2 linked regions of the Homo sapiens genome follow. The protein of the gene in region 1 purifies or fractionates together with the protein of each later gene. This does not show direct contact. Each region holds a gene or a part of one and is shown in the gene's direction. Other genes may lie near its edges.

Evidence for each region. The genes of interacting proteins can lie anywhere in the genome.
Region 2: the proteins of NDFIP1 (region 1) and SLC11A2 purify together in Homo sapiens (affinity purification with western blotting; 2 studies listed by BioGRID and IntAct, with this or other methods). This does not show direct contact.

The regions. Positions count from the first base shown.
Region 1 is NC_000005.10:142,125,285-142,133,232, forward strand, and holds part of NDFIP1 (NEDD4 family-interacting protein 1), read left to right. Parts: intron 1-6,523; coding exon 6,524-6,611; intron 6,612-6,927; coding exon 6,928-7,058; intron 7,059-7,948. UniProt on the Homo sapiens protein: Activates HECT domain-containing E3 ubiquitin-protein ligases, including NEDD4 and ITCH, and consequently modulates the stability of their targets. As a result, controls many cellular processes.
Region 2 is NC_000012.12:50,987,865-50,995,532, reverse strand, and holds part of SLC11A2 (natural resistance-associated macrophage protein 2), read left to right. Parts: intron 1-902; coding exon 903-989; intron 990-2,603; coding exon 2,604-2,723; intron 2,724-3,193; coding exon 3,194-3,343; intron 3,344-3,860; coding exon 3,861-3,934; intron 3,935-4,584; coding exon 4,585-4,738; intron 4,739-7,097; coding exon 7,098-7,208; 3' UTR 7,209-7,668. UniProt on the Homo sapiens protein: Proton-coupled metal ion symporter operating with a proton to metal ion stoichiometry of 1:1. Selectively transports various divalent metal cations, in decreasing affinity: Cd(2+) > Fe(2+) > Co(2+), Mn(2+) >> Zn(2+), Ni(2+), VO(2+).

The DNA.
Region 1 (7,948 bases):
TACCAGTTTTTGTGTGAACTTGTTTTCAGTTCTCTTGGGTATATACCTTGGAGTGGAATTGCTTGATGTTAATATAAATCTGTGTTGCTGTTTTTGTTTGAGACAGGATCTCACTCTGTTGCTCAGACTGAGCAACAGACTAGACTGGACTCACTGCAGCCTTGAACTCCTTGGCTAAAGTGATCCTCCTGTCTCAGCGTCTTGAGTAGCTGGATCACAGGTGTGCCGCCATGCCTGGCTAATTTTTAAATTTTTAGTAGAGACAGGATCTTGCTGTGTTGCCCAGGCTGGTCTCAGACTCCTGGCCTCAAGTGATCCTCCTGCCTCAGCCTCCCAAAGTGCTGGGATTGCAGGCTGAGCCACTGTGTTTTCAGCCTATGTTTAACTTATTTTGAGGAACTGCCAAACTTTTCCACAGCAGCTGTACCATTTTACATTCCCACCAGCAGTGTATTAGAGTTCCCGTTTCTCCACATACTCAGCACTTGTTATTGTCTGTCTTTTTTATTATAGCCATCCTAGTAAGCATGAAGTGGTATTGAGTCTTGGTTTTGATTTGCGTTTTCCTGCTGACTTAATGATGTTGAGCATTTTGTGTCTACTGGCCTTTTGTATATCTTCTTTGGAGAAATGTCTGTTCAAATCATTTGCCCATTTTATAATTGGGTTGCCTTTTTATTGTTTAGTCTCTCTTATCTTGTCAGAATTATTTAAAATATCTTCCCCTAATTAATAACAATTAGATAGAGAATTTTTCTTGAATGTAAATAATTTGGTGATGTTAGAATAACAGAGTTTATATTTACAATATATAAAGTAAATGTACAGGCCACACAAACTTAATGATTATTTCTGAACAGCAGTAAAATAGCATACTCAGCTGTTTACCAAAAGAAATGTGCTTGTTTACTTTTTGTAATTATACTGCCTTGTTTTGGTAGGATTTAGGGACTATGCAGAAGTAGTGGGTTGGTAATGAGAGCTTTAAAAATTGCATTTTAAGGTAAAAGTTTTAGCAATTAACTCTAAGATAGAAGTAGTAAATAACATTCAAAACTAGAGTTCAAGCATTGACCCAGAATTTTCTGATATTTATTTTTAATAACTTAAAGAAGGGACTTGAAACTTACAAGAATTTTCTTGCTGTTTAAATATGACCAAACCAAGAAAAAATTAAGTAGTGAAAATACTTGCAACTTTATGGACTTACTGGATACTTCAGCATTATTTTTCACGTGCTTTGTTTGTTTGTTTGTATGAATTCTGAGGTGTATGTTGATACCTTTTCTCATATATAAGGATTTATGGGTTTTGTTTAGTGTAGGGTTTTTTGTTGTTCTCTCATTCTTAGTAAATATAGATAATCCAAGAATGACTTTTAAGTGCCTTTAGGTCCTGCCATTTGCTACAGTTATAAATGTTGCCCCTTGCTTAGCCCTAATCCTAGCCCCAGCTCTGCTATTGCTTAAAAACAACTCATTTTAGAACTGCTTAGTGAGGAGGGCGGTGGTGAAGCTTTCTTGCTGATTGGGAACTCAAATAATAGTTTAAATCTGTAGGGTATAATGTCTTAAACGTGTTAAATTCAAGTTTGTTTCTATTAGAATTAGAACTATATATGATTTCTGTGTTGGAGATTCATAAAAATGTCATATTTATTTTTAATAACAATAGGACCTAGATACAGAGGAAGGTGATAAGGAGGGAAAAAAAAACGCTCTATTTTATTTTATTTATTTATTTATTTTTGAGACAGAATCTCACTTTGTCGCCCAGGCTGAAGTGCAGTGGCTTGATCTCAGCTTACTGTAACCTCCACCTCCCCGGATCAAGTGATTCTCGTGCCTAAGCCTCCCGAGTAGTTGGGACTACAGGTGCATGCCACCACACCTGGTTGATTTTTGTATTTTTAGTAGAGACGAGATTTTACCATGTTGGCCAGGCTGGTCTCAAACTCCTGACCTCAAGTGATCCGCCCACCTCAGCCTCCCAAAGTGCTGGGATTACAGGTGTGACTTGAGAACAAAACCTTAGTAGCACCTATTTGTAAATAAATGTTTTCTTAAAATTGAAGGTCATCAAGGCCAAAGGCACCATGGCAGATTGTGACATATCTGAAGTAGGAAGAGTTTTAGGGTTCTTCTGGGGAGCCATTCTAGTCTGCTCAGCACATAGAAGGGAGCAAAGGTAATCAGGAAAAGAGTAATGGCACACTCTGGGTGTGAGAAAGTGAAAGGTCATCTGAATTCTCAGGTGATTGGATTATTTATTTCTTAGCGATGGAGGCATAGGTAGTTATAGGTAGTTCTGTATTAAACTCTACTTTGTATGGCCTGTGTAGGTAATTGTATAGCTGTATTTGGAAAAAATGCCATTTAAATCATATTTCAGCCGGGTATGGTGGCTCACGCCTATAATCCCAGCGCTTTGGGAGGCTGAGGCAGGCGGATCACTTGAGGTCAGGAGTTTGGTACCAACCTGGCCAACATGGCACAACCCCATCTCTACTAAAAATACAAAAATTAGCCAGGTATGGTGGTGCATGCCTGTAATCCCAACTACTTGGGAGGCTGAGGCGGAAGAATCACTTGAACCCAGGAGGCAGAGGTTGCAGTGAGCCAAGATGGTACCACTGCACTCCAGCCTGGGTGACAGAGTGAGATTCTGTCTCAAAAAAATAAATCATATTTGAAGTTTAGTAAAATTGGTCAGAAATTATATGACAGGAAAAAAAATCCAGTGTCCAACAGCTATTTATTATCTATCACAGTCACTCAAAGGATATCCCCCCTACCCTTGCCCAACATCTCTGTGCACTGAGAGCAGAAGTTCCCAGATCTGTCCCAGTTTTCAGATCTGTCTCTCTGAGTATCCCCTACAACCCAGATTCTGTGACAGTTAAATTGGACTCGGGCTTCCACTGACCCAGTTGATGGAAGAGACTGAGCATCTTTCCAACTCTAACCCAAACGTGACAATGCCGCGTATTCTTTCAGAAAGTGTCAGGAAAGAGCCCGAAGATCCCTGAGCTCCAGGGACATGGCAGGGAGGCTGCACAGAAGGGTTCCCAGGGGTGGAAAAGGGGAATCTTAAAAATAAATTTTGGAACCAAGTAATCAATTTTATAGCACACTCTAGTTCTAGCGCACATGGTTCCTCCACTTGTTAGTGAATGCCTGACTTGTTGCCCCTGAAGTGTAAAAAGATGTATATTTAAGGATTCCATTGTTCAGCAAGTTATTATGCATGCAGATGGCAGGCACTAAGTGCTTACTCTTTTTGAAGGTGATTGCCTCTCCCCGCGATCCCCCTACATTGCAGTGTTTTGTTTTAAACAGCTTTCTTGATGGAGCCTAATCTTATCACCAGCATTATAGAAATAAGCCAGAGTGAGAAGCCTGTACAGTGAGGTCTTGGGATTATACCATAGTCATAATGGTGTTTTAAATTGTTTTTATTTTTCAATTGAAAAAAGTACACTATTCTAAAGTAGTGAATTTTAGTGGAGCAAACTCTTCACCTGGAAGTGTTTTTTTCCTTACCAAAGTGAAAATTGGTGGTTCTAAGAAGGCTGGAATTTATTTGCACTGTCATCTTTTACTATGGTGGGGGATGATCAAATTTAACATTTCCAAGTTTCCAGGAGACAGGCAGCCTATCTTATAAATATTGTCATAGAAGACCTCTTAACCTCTTTGTTCTTTGGATTTCTGTATTTCTTAGAATTGTCATGCTTCCTTTCTGAGACCTAAATTATGCAGGGGTAACGTGATTACTTTGACACCAAGCTCAGGAAATATAAAACGGGTTAAGTATAAACCAAGCTAGGTTTAAATGAAGTTCATTACTGGCTACAGTATATTAAGGGAACATATTCGAAAAGTCTGTATTTGCCTTTGTTCTTGCTGCTGACTCTTCTGCTTCTTTTGGTGACCTTCCCACAGCACAAGAGTGGTTAGGTGTGAGGAGGCTAAGAATACCTTGCCAAGAGCTTCAAATAATGTTAAAACCAGTATTTTAGGTGAACCATGGTCCCAAGAACTCTATTTAAGTAATTCCTAGTTCGGTGTCCCAGGAGCATTTGGCTTTACTGCACCTATTTTGGCCACATGTCTTTGTTTAAAAGGAAAAATTATCTTAGGTTATAATACAGCTATTTTGGGAGTACCTTAAGTTTAACATTAGATTACTAGGATTCGAAAAAATGTACCCAGATGGTAGATGCTGATGAGAATTTGACACAAGAATTCATTTGAAATTGAAGCTTTTGTAGTATTAGTCAGAAAAATTTATTGACATCTGGTTTTGAACAGCATAGTGAGTGGAGATTGAGATGATCAGTTAAAATTTAATGGATTGTGGCCGGGCACAATGGCTCACGCCTGTAATTCCAGCACTTTGGGAGGCTAAGGCAGGCATATCACCTGAGGTCGGGAGTTTGAGACGAGCCTGGCCCACGTCTACTAAAAATACAAAAATTAGCCAGGTCTGGTGGCATACGCCTGTAGTCCCAGCTACTTGGAGTCTGAGGCAACAGAATTGCTTGAACCTGGGAGGTGGAGGTTTCAGTGAGCCGAGATCCCACCATTGCTCTCCAGCCTGGGCAACAAAAGCGAAACTACATCTCAAAAAAAAAAAAAAAAAAAGAAAGAAAGAAAATTTAATGGATTATGGAGCTCTACTTCACATTAGTACACCTCGGTCTCTCTGTTTTTCTGTCTCAATTCAAGATAGAGTTCTTTGTAGCGGTATGGTTTAGAGGTGGTATGTATTTTACAAGTATGTCAGTTGGCTCTGTATATCCTGATGATACCGAAGCCAGGACCAGACCCCTACGTCAGTTATATCACTAAATATTCTGTTATTAATTTTCAGATTGGCTCCTAGTCCCAGCCAACTCATGTTTTAAATTAATATAGTTCATTGTCACACTGGACTGGAAAAACCAAATGAAATGTCTTTATTCTATGAAGATGACTTGTGTAGACTATACAGACTAGCAACAGCAGACACTTTCAGTGCGAGTTATTTTAAAAAATTGAAGATTTGACTGGCAGAAAAGTTGCTGAGATAGGGAAAAGGGATATCTATTGACAGATATATGTAGAATTAGGGAGAATTTTATGTTTTCATAAGTGTCTCAATTATTTAAGATTTAATTTGGTGTGCATGTGGAATATAATGGTAACATGGTTTGTCTGTGATTTGTCTTTTGTCTTAACAGATTATTTTTCTAACTTTAAAAAAGTATACATCACTTGAGGCCAGGAGTTTTAAACCAGTCTGGGCAACACAGGAAGACCCCATCTCTACAAAACATAAATTTTAAAAAAAGTTAGCCAGGGTCACAGTGTGCCATAATTGTGCCACTGCACTCCTGCCTGGACAACAAGAGTGAGATCCTGTCTCTCCAAAAAAAAAAAAGTATGCAAGTGATAAATATTCACTACAAAATATTTGAACATGCAGATACACAACAAAAAGGAAAAATTCCCCTGTACTCCTATTACCTAGAAATAACAGTGTTGAACTGTAAATGTCTCATTCTAGGCCTCCTTTCCATTATATGTCTGCCTTTTTAAAAAGGATTATATGATGCCTATTGTTTGGCAAGTTTAGCTTTTTTCATGTAATAATAGTACACTGTAAATATCTATTTGAGTAATGAAATTTAATTTTTTTTTTTTTAAAGACATGGTCTCTCTCATGCCCCAGGCTGGAGGGCAGTGGCACAATCTTAGCTCGCTGCAGCCACGACCTCCTGGGTTCAAGCCATCCTGCTGCCTCAGCCTCCTGAGTAGCTAGAACCACAGGTGCATGCCACCACTCCCGGGTAATTTTTGTATTTTTTGTAGAGACAGGGTTTGTTTTGCCATGTTGCCCAGGCTAGTCTTGAACTCCTAAACTCTCCTAATCTCAAGCGATCCCACCCACCTAGGCCTCCCAGAGTGCTAGGATTACAGGTGTGAGCCACCATGCCTGGCTGAAATTTAATGTATATTTTTTTTGACACAGAGTTTCACTCTGTTGCCCAGGCTGGAGTGCAGTGGCACCATCTCAGCTCACTGCAACCTCCGCCTCCCGGGTTAAAACGATTCTTGTGCCTCAGCCTCCTGAGCAGCTGGGACTATAGGAGTGTGCCACCATGCCTGGCTAATTTTTGTATTTTTAGTAGAGATTGGGTTTTGCCATGTTGGCCAGGATGGCAAAATTTAATTTTTAATGGCCGTTTAGTAGTCCTTTGTGTGATGTACTATAATTTATTTGTCTCCTATGATTGGAATTTAGGTTGTTTCTAATTTTTGCTGACACAACACTTATATGTACCCATTTTGCCTCTTTGAATATTTCCATAGAATAACTTCCTGGGAGTAGAATACTTTTCTTAAAGGATTTGTGCATTTCAAGGCTTTCAAAATACGTTGCCAAATAGCTTTCGAGAAAGGCTATTTATTTCAGTTTTTGGGTTCTTATCTTTCTAATTGGCTTTATGCTTACATTAAAATATGAAATTTTTATTTAGTTGCAGAATGAAGAAGAGTCTGGAGAACCTGAACAGGCTGCAGGTGATGCTCCTCCACCTTACAGCAGCATTTCTGCAGAGAGCGCAGGTAGGTAACAGGGCAAGGTGATCACGGAATCCTTAAAAACACTCTGTGCTTTGACATTACAGTTTAAAAAAAAAAAAGCTTCAGAAGCAGTTGGAAGAAAGGTTACAAAGCAAGTCTGGATTTTAAATAATTGAGAAGTGGATACATTTAAAAATCACCCCCAGTCTCTTACATTCATCTAAGAATGTCTTTTGGTTCAATTGTTATGTATGTACTCTTAAGGGAATGGCTGGGTTTTGTCTGCTAGAGTTAGTGGAACTCCTTTTATTTCAATTCAGCTAATCATCAAAAAATTGTGACTGTTAAAATTCTGCAGCATATTTTGACTACAAGGATGAGTCTGGGTTTCCAAAGCCCCCATCTTACAATGTAGCTACAACACTGCCCAGTTATGATGAAGCGGAGAGGACCAAGGCTGAAGCTACTATCCCTTTGGTTCCTGGGAGAGTGAGTATAATTTGCCATGTTACTTGATGGCTGCTCTGTGGGAATTAAGTTATTTTCATTATCCAATTTTGATTCGTTACTTATGATTGTATTGATTAGTGAAAGTAGAGCTAATTTTAAAAATCAGGTACATTTGCTTTTGGGATAATAAACTCATCTCTTCTTAAAAATGATGAGGTAAATTACTAGTCAGACCTGCTCATTTTTCCTTCATCTCTCCTATTACCACTACTTTTTCAAGTCTCCTGGGATGGCTGAAGTATCTTGAAGCAGAAGCACACTAATGTTTCCTTGATTCTGCACACTTAATATTTTGCTGTTGGGTGGATAGCTGCTAGGGAGGTCTAGGAAGAGAATAAATATATGCAAATTTGTAGAATTAAACTCATAAGAGGGATCTTCACATTGATTTAGATGAACTCCGTTCTTCCAGCAGTCCAGATCATGTCATTTGTGGGGACATAGTGAGTTCAGATTCCATCTAGCCTGATGTTGATTCATGGAGGTGGAGATTGGGATGCCATATAAACCAGTGGAGATTATTGGGCACTCTTGGTTCTTGATGTCAGATATGTGAGTGCTGCATTTGTCATTTTGTAAATATTCATCCAGATTGAGGCTGATGAAGGTAGGGCATTGTGGGAGAATGGAAGCAGGATAAGTCCCCAGAAATGCGGGGACCATCAGGCCTCTAGGCTCTATTCTAGCAAGTAACTGGAGTGAGTGATGAGCAAGTACAGAAGCCTAGTCTGGGCAGTGTGATGGCATAGGCCCAGATGTTCCCCTCTTGGCTTTAAGATAGTAGACAGTTTGCAGACCACACCTACTGTGAGGAGCGAAGCTCCTAAAATCATTGCTTGGTAGAAATAGTTTATGAGCCCAATCTAGGA
Region 2 (7,668 bases), on another chromosome or scaffold:
TTCAGGAGAAATAATCTCTAGCTTCTCGTCTGCCCCCCAAAATCACTGTGCACCAGTCAGAGTCTACAGTATGGGGCTGACCAAGCCTGGACCCTCTTTCTCAGCTTTTGTTTGGGAGTAGTCAACAAACAGAAAACAGAAACTGTGATGATGACAGACTTTGTCTTGTCATTTTGAATTCTGTATCAATCTTGATTTCTGATTACCTATGTAGTGTTTTTTTTGAGACGGAGTCTTGCACTGTCATCCAAGCTGGAGTGCAGTGGCACAGTCTTGGCTCACTGCCTCCACCTCCTGGGTTCAAGCGATTCTCCTGCCTCAGCCTCCTGAGTAGCTGGGATTACAGGTGCCTGCCACCACACCCAGCTAATTTTTTGTAATTTTAGTAGAGATGGGGTTTCACCATGTTGGCCAGGCTGGTCTCAAACTCCTGACCTCAAGTGATCCACCTGCCTCGGCCTCTCAAAGTACAGGGATTACAGGCGTGAGCTCCTGTGCCTGGCCTGCCTGTGTAGTTTTGATCACCATTTGTTTCCCGTCTATGGAACCTCTGACTCCTCTGTCTGCTTTGACTGAGGATTCTATTCTGGGTGTTCTCTCATGTCTGAAGCCTTCTTCAGAGCCTCTCCTCTTGTCATCATTTAAAGTACCCCAGCGTTTGTACATTATTACCATGCACACTGTAACTCAGTAAAGATTTTTGATGACCTGTGGGTGTAGAAGGATTATAGAGGAAGATCCTAGATAACATTGCTGCTAGTCTCTGCCCACATCACAGCATATGTCCAGTGTTTTCCCTCCAGCCTACCTCTTATAGATGATTGTGTATGATATGTAGGAGAGCTCTTATTTGGTCCTTGCTTCTGAAACAAAAGTTGCTGTTGAATTGCTTTGGGTTCTAGGTTGAAGTCTGTACAAATACCAGCAGTCCTCATGCTGGCCTCTTTCCTAAAGATAACTCGACACTGGCTGTGGACATCTACAAAGGGGTAAGCATGTTTGGATTTGTGATCTTTGTTCCTGAATCAGTATTTTTAGCATAGTATGTGGTCTTTTTTGTGACTTCACTTCAGATATGAGCATATCTCCTCTGGAGTGTCATTTATTTCAGAGTTCCAGACACCAGACAAGCATTTTGGATTAAATGGGAAGGAATAGAGGATCAGTTGAAAAGATATATAATACAGGCCGGGTGCGGTGGTTCACGCCTGTAATCCCAGCACTTTGGGAGGCTGAGGCGGGTGGATCACTTGAGCTCAGGAGTTCAAGACCAGCCTGACCAACATGGTGAAACCCTGTCTCTACTAAAAACAAAAATACAAAAATTAGCTGGATGTGGTGGTGGGCACCTGTAATCTCAGCTACTCAGGAGGCTGAGACACGAGAATCGCTTGAACCTGGAAGGCAGAGGTTGCAGTGAGCCGAGATTGGGCCACTGCACTCCAGCCTGGGCGACAGAATAAGACTCTGTCTTTAAAAAAAAAAGGAAAAAAAAGATGCAGTATACACCCCAGCTTTTTTTTTTTTTTTTTTTTTTTTTGGAGACAAGGTCTTGCTCTGTTGCCCAGGCTGGGGTACAGTGGCTCGATCATGGCTCACTGCAGCCTCCACCTACCTGGTCCAAGTGATTTTCCCATCTCAGTCTTTTGGGTAATGGGACTGCAGGCAAGCACCACCATGCTTGGCTATTTTTTTTTTCTTTTTGAGATGGAGTTTTGTTCTTGTTGCCCAGGCTGGAGTGCACTGGCGTGATCTTGGCTCACTGCAATCTCTGCCTTCCGGGTTCAAGTGCTTCTCCTGCCTCAGCCTCCCAAGTAGATAGGATTACAGGTGTGTACCACCACACCTGGCTAATTTTGTATTTTTAGTAGAGATGGGGGTCTCTCCATGTTGGTCAGGCTGGTCTCGAACTCCTGACCTCAGGTGATCCACCCCCCCCTCGGCCTCCCAAAGTGCTGGGATTACAGGTGTGAGCCACCATGCCTGGCCTTGTATTTTTTTTGTAGAGTCAGGGTATTTGCCATGTTGCCTAGGCTTGTCTCAAACTCCTGGGCTCAAGGGATTCTCCAACCCTGGCCTCCCAAAGTGCTGGGATTACAAGCGTGAGCCACCCTACCCAGCCCCAAGAAAGTGTTCTTAGTAAAGTGTTTTTACTGGAGTCTCTCAGTTCTTTTATGCTGGTTACATTGTGATCCTCCAACAGTAGAATATATAGTGTGTAGCATTTCACCAATTTATTTGATATTTCCCTGTACTTCTATTGCCATTTTCCAGAATAGTGTGTAAAGGAATATAATTTGGGGAAAGTGGTGTAGACCTCTTTTTTTTTTTTTTTTTTTTTAATATTTAAGATGGAGGTTTAGGAGCTTGGAGAAGAGAAAGGACTAGGCAGAGAAACGAAGGAGCATCCAGTAAAGTTTAGACTGAAAGCTTCTGGAATGAGGTCCAGACTTGAGCCTAGCTTCTGGCACAGTGCGCAGCACAGCACTTGGTGTTGGTGGTGCATAGCAAAGAAGGGAGAAATGCCACAGGGAACTGCTGTTTTGGATATTGTCTGAGCAGATTATTGCCACAATCATATCCTTCCTCTTGGCCTCTCACAGGGTGTTGTGCTGGGATGTTACTTTGGGCCTGCTGCACTCTACATTTGGGCAGTGGGGATCCTGGCTGCAGGACAGAGCTCCACCATGACAGGAACCTATTCTGGCCAGTTTGTCATGGAGGTACGTGCTGGTATAGGATAGAGGGAGATAACACAACCCTTTTGTTACTTCTTCTTCTTCTTCTTTTTTTTTTTTTTTTGAGATGGAGTCTCACTCGTCGCCCAAGTTGGAGTGTAATGGCATGATCTCGGCTCACTGCAACCTCCACCTCCCGGGTTCAAGTGATTCTCCTGACTCAGCCTCCCGAGTAGCTAGGATTACAGGCTCTGGCCACCATACTCGGCTAATTTTTTGTATTTTTAGTAGAGATGGCGTTTCACCATGTTGGCCAGGCAGGTCTTGAACTCCTGACCTCAAGTGATCTACCCGCCTTGGCCTCTCAAAGTGCTGGGATTACAGGCGTGAGCCACTGCGCCTGGCCCCTTTTGTCACTTCTTAATCCCATTCTTCTGAGGTCTCTCCTGAACCTCCCCAAAACTTTTTTTTGTTTCCTGTTGCAGACAGTCATCTGCTCCTATGTTTTCTTCCAGGGATTCCTGAACCTAAAGTGGTCACGCTTTGCCCGAGTGGTTCTGACTCGCTCTATTGCCATCATCCCCACTCTGCTTGTTGCTGTCTTCCAAGATGTAGAGCATCTAACAGGGATGAATGACTTTCTGAATGTTCTACAGAGCTTACAGGTGAGGAGGAAGCTGAGGAAACACATCCTAGTTATTCAGGTAGCATTATGTACTGCCCTTGGGTACCAAGCCTAGCTGAGTGCTGGGGGGATATTGAGAGGAAGACAGAGGCATGGTTGTGGTCTGCAGTAAATGTATATGAAATCCTTGGCATCTAAAAGGATTTTAGAAATGGTTGGTTTTTTAAACCTGTTGAATGGGAACTATGAACTTTACTTACATATGGGACACAAAATTGTAGTTCATTAATGCAAGCAAACATTAAATGAACATATAGGACACTGTGCTAGGTCCTGTGGAGGTTAAGAAGACAAGTCACATACAAAGGTTTGTATGCTAGGTTAATGACAGCTCTGCAGAATTCAGCATAATGCCCAAGCATGTTGGGATGATAGGAATAATTATTTCTCATGGAGTAGTTGAGGCAGCATTTATGTTTCCCTTTCATTAATTGTGCTGTTCTCTAGGGTGATACAAGGACCCATAGTAATCCCATCTGATCTTCTTTCTTTTCCAGCTTCCCTTTGCTCTCATACCCATCCTCACATTTACGAGCTTGCGGCCAGTAATGAGTGACTTTGCCAATGGACTGTGAGTGTACTCCTCTTCGTTCCCAAAGGGGATGCTGATATGGGGAAAGGGTATCTTCATGCAGTAGGCCAGTCAGACGTGAGACACAGAGGGAAGCGATATGCTTTGAGAGGTGATTGCTAGCTGCTTCCTCTTTGGCTTAGAGAATGGAAACTGTGAATATAGTAAAGGAAGAGAAAGCACGTCTTTCATATGAAGGGGAGAGAAAGTTCAGCTTTTACAGCATAACTCTTCAGCTTCAGCCACTGAAGTTTGAGGCACCTTAATTCTTTGTTAAATGATCTTAACAAAAAAGGCATAAGTTAGTACCTTTTATATATATCTTTAAAGGATATGAGGTATCTGAAGTGACTTGTTGCATTTTTGGGAACGTTAATAAAATGGCTCATTGCGTTTCTAGGCCTTGTTGCATCTCTAGGGACTTAAATATTAGGGATTATTTGTTGGTGTCTTTTCCCCCCTCTTTCTCCCTGTCTACCAGTATCTAACTTTGGGTGATTTAACTTAGACTTATGAAGAATCATTTTTTTTCAAATTAAGAACAATTTTTCCATTCATTTTGAACTGCCTCTAATTCCCATCCTGTTTCCTTTTCTGTCTGTGGCCAAGTTGGATTATTCCATCAGTGACTGTGCTGATTTCTTTTACAGAGGCTGGCGGATTGCAGGAGGAATCTTGGTCCTTATCATCTGTTCCATCAATATGTACTTTGTAGTGGTTTATGTCCGGGACCTAGGGCATGTGGCATTATATGTGGTGGCTGCTGTGGTCAGCGTGGCTTATCTGGGCTTTGTGTTCTACTTGGTAAGTCTAGCCTGGAAGAGCAGGGGCATAGGTATCAGGGATGGTTGAGGTGGGGTTCACTGACATTCAGAAATGAACAGACCCAGGCTGGGCACAGTGGCTCATGCCTATAATCCCAGTACTTTGGGAGGCTGAGGCGGGAGGATTGCTTGAATCCAGGAGTTAGAGACCAATCTGGGCAACATAGTAAGACTCCATCTCTACAAAAAAAGAGAAATGAACAGACCCAAAAGAGCACATAACAATCTACCTCCAGGTGATCGAGACAATGTATATGGAATTGTCAAATCAGCTGTTTACAAAATAATATTTCTAACCATAAAATTCACTTTGGTTACTAAGATTTGTCATTTTTCAATTTCTGTCACTTCTGTAGTTTCCATTCTTAGTAATTCCTAACAAGAGAGTATAGTATGTTTGAGGAACTAAAAGAAGGGTAGCAGTACAGAGAGTGGAGAACGGTACAAAACAGAGGTGGAGAATAGGGCATGCAGTGTGATTTAGAGATTCGGGGTGGGACACATGTGGCACACAGCCCCACTCAGCTCCATCACTTACTAGCTGTCCAAGGAAATAATTAAATAGTGATAGTCTCCCCTTGACTCTCTCATTCTAGAGTCATTTTTTAAAAATCATGGTTATAAAACTATAGCTACATGAAAAAGGTATGTAAAATTTATATTTCAATTATAAAAAATTTTTTAAGAAGTCTAGAATTATATAAAAATGGCAATATAGTTGTTGTAGGAAGCTAGGATTATAGATATATTCTTCTCTATTTTCCAAATCTTCTTTAGCATTGCTTATATTAATGAAAAACAGCCAAAATAACAACAGATCCATTTCCCTGTTCTATACAGGTTTCTTTGAAAAGACACAGGGGTTAGGGATAAGGAATAGTAGAATTTATACCATTTTTGCTGCAGAGAATGGCTACAGATGGAGGCTGGAAACCTGCTGTTAATCTCTAGAACACTTCCCCACACCAGTGTGCCACACATTAGATACTTTATTAAGAAAATCACTTCAGTAAATGTTGAAAAATTATTTCCTAGATCTCTTCTTTTTTTCTTCCCAATAAACTTTGTGCACACAAAGACTGTACTGACCCTATGATCTAGGAACTTAACTTCAAGGAAAACCAAGTAACTGAATGTGTCCTTGACAGGAATTGTTTTTAAAAATTCACTATAGAAGTTAGGGGGATCCTTTCAGAATGCAAATTGGATATGAAGATGCCAGTTTGTCCTCAGTCAGCCTAAGGCTAATGAGCTTGTTGAAGACCCATTATTATTATTATTTTTGAGACAGAGTTTTTCTCTATCGCCCAAGCTAGGGTATAGTGGCATGATCTTAGCTCACTGCAACCTCTGCCTCCTGGGTTCAAGTGATTCGCCTGCCTTAGCCTCCTGAGTAGTTGGGACTACAGCCATGTGCTAACCATGCCTGGCTAATTTTTGTATTTTTAGTAGAGATGGGGTTTTGCCATGTTGGCCAGGCTGGTCTCAAACTCTTGACCTCAGGTGATCCACCTGCCTCAGCCTCCTGAAGTGTTGGGATTACAGGCATGAGCCACCGTGTCTGGCTTGAAGACCCATTTTGAGAGGAGAGGGCTGATTCTAGAGTGGGTTACTGTTGTTTAACTTCAAAACAGGAACTTCATAGAGCAGCTTAGGAGACTACACCAATTGTATTAGTCTGTTAGTCATTCTTATCATGGGGAGGACTGAGGAAAAGTGGACTTCCGAGAACTTACAGTTGGGTAAAAGAAACAAACAACAGGCTGGACGAGGTGGCTCACGCTTGTAATTTCAGTGCTTTGGGAGGCCGAGCCAGGAGGATTGCTTGAGGTTAGGAGTTTCAGACCAGCTTGAGAAATATAGCAAGACACCTTGTCTCTACAAAAAAAAATAAATTAGCTGGGCATGGTGGTGTGCGTCTGTAATCCTGGCAACTCAGGAGGCTGAGGAGAGAGGATTGCTTGAGCCCAGGAATTCGAGGCTTCAGTGAGCTATGATTGCACCACTATACTCCAGCCTGAGCAATAGAGGGAGACCTTGTCTCTAAAATGTAAAATAATAATAAAGATTTTAAAAAAAAGGAAAACCACAGACACAAAGCAGTAAGAACAGAGAAATTCAATATTTAAAATAGTATGGACAAACTTTGTTGAGGAAGGCAGCTGATTTTTTGAAGGGGGAGTGGGGTTGAGAGAATGACTTGTGCAACCCTTGGTGGTAGAAGATGGGCACAGCTGGATGTTCAAGGAAGGGAGCAGGTTTGCATTTGAGAAGTGCTGTGTGAGCAGTCATGGCTCTTCAAAGAGCCTGGTGAGTGATGACCATATTTTGTCTTTCAGGGTTGGCAATGTTTGATTGCACTGGGCATGTCCTTCCTGGACTGTGGGCATACGGTAAGCATCTCTAAAGGCCTGCTGACAGAAGAAGCCACCCGTGGCTACGTTAAATAACACTGGATTAGTCTGTCTTCTGCAGGTAGCCATCAGAGCCAGTGTGTTTCTATGGTTTACTGTGTGAACATAGCCAAAAGTATGTGCCGTTGCACAGACTGTGTTTATGACTCAACCGTTGGTTGGAAAAGACTTTGTTTCATGTGTATTTGAAAGATGGAATTATTTTTTCCTTCCTGACCTAACCTTAGAACTGGATTAGGGTGGGATCTTTGAAAAGCTGACATTTGCTGCTATCATTCCAACACTAAATTCTTAAGTAGTTGCCCAAGGGCCAGCTCAGTTTATCCTTCGGAGAGACAAGGATATGCATGATTCTTAACCAGGCTATATGTTAAAAAAAAATTGGAAAATGCAATACATTTTTTATTATACAAACTACAGAATGAGTATGCAAGTTTTATTTATCAAAATGTAATGGATTTTTAAAGGCTGAGAAATTTTCCTTATACCTACCTTT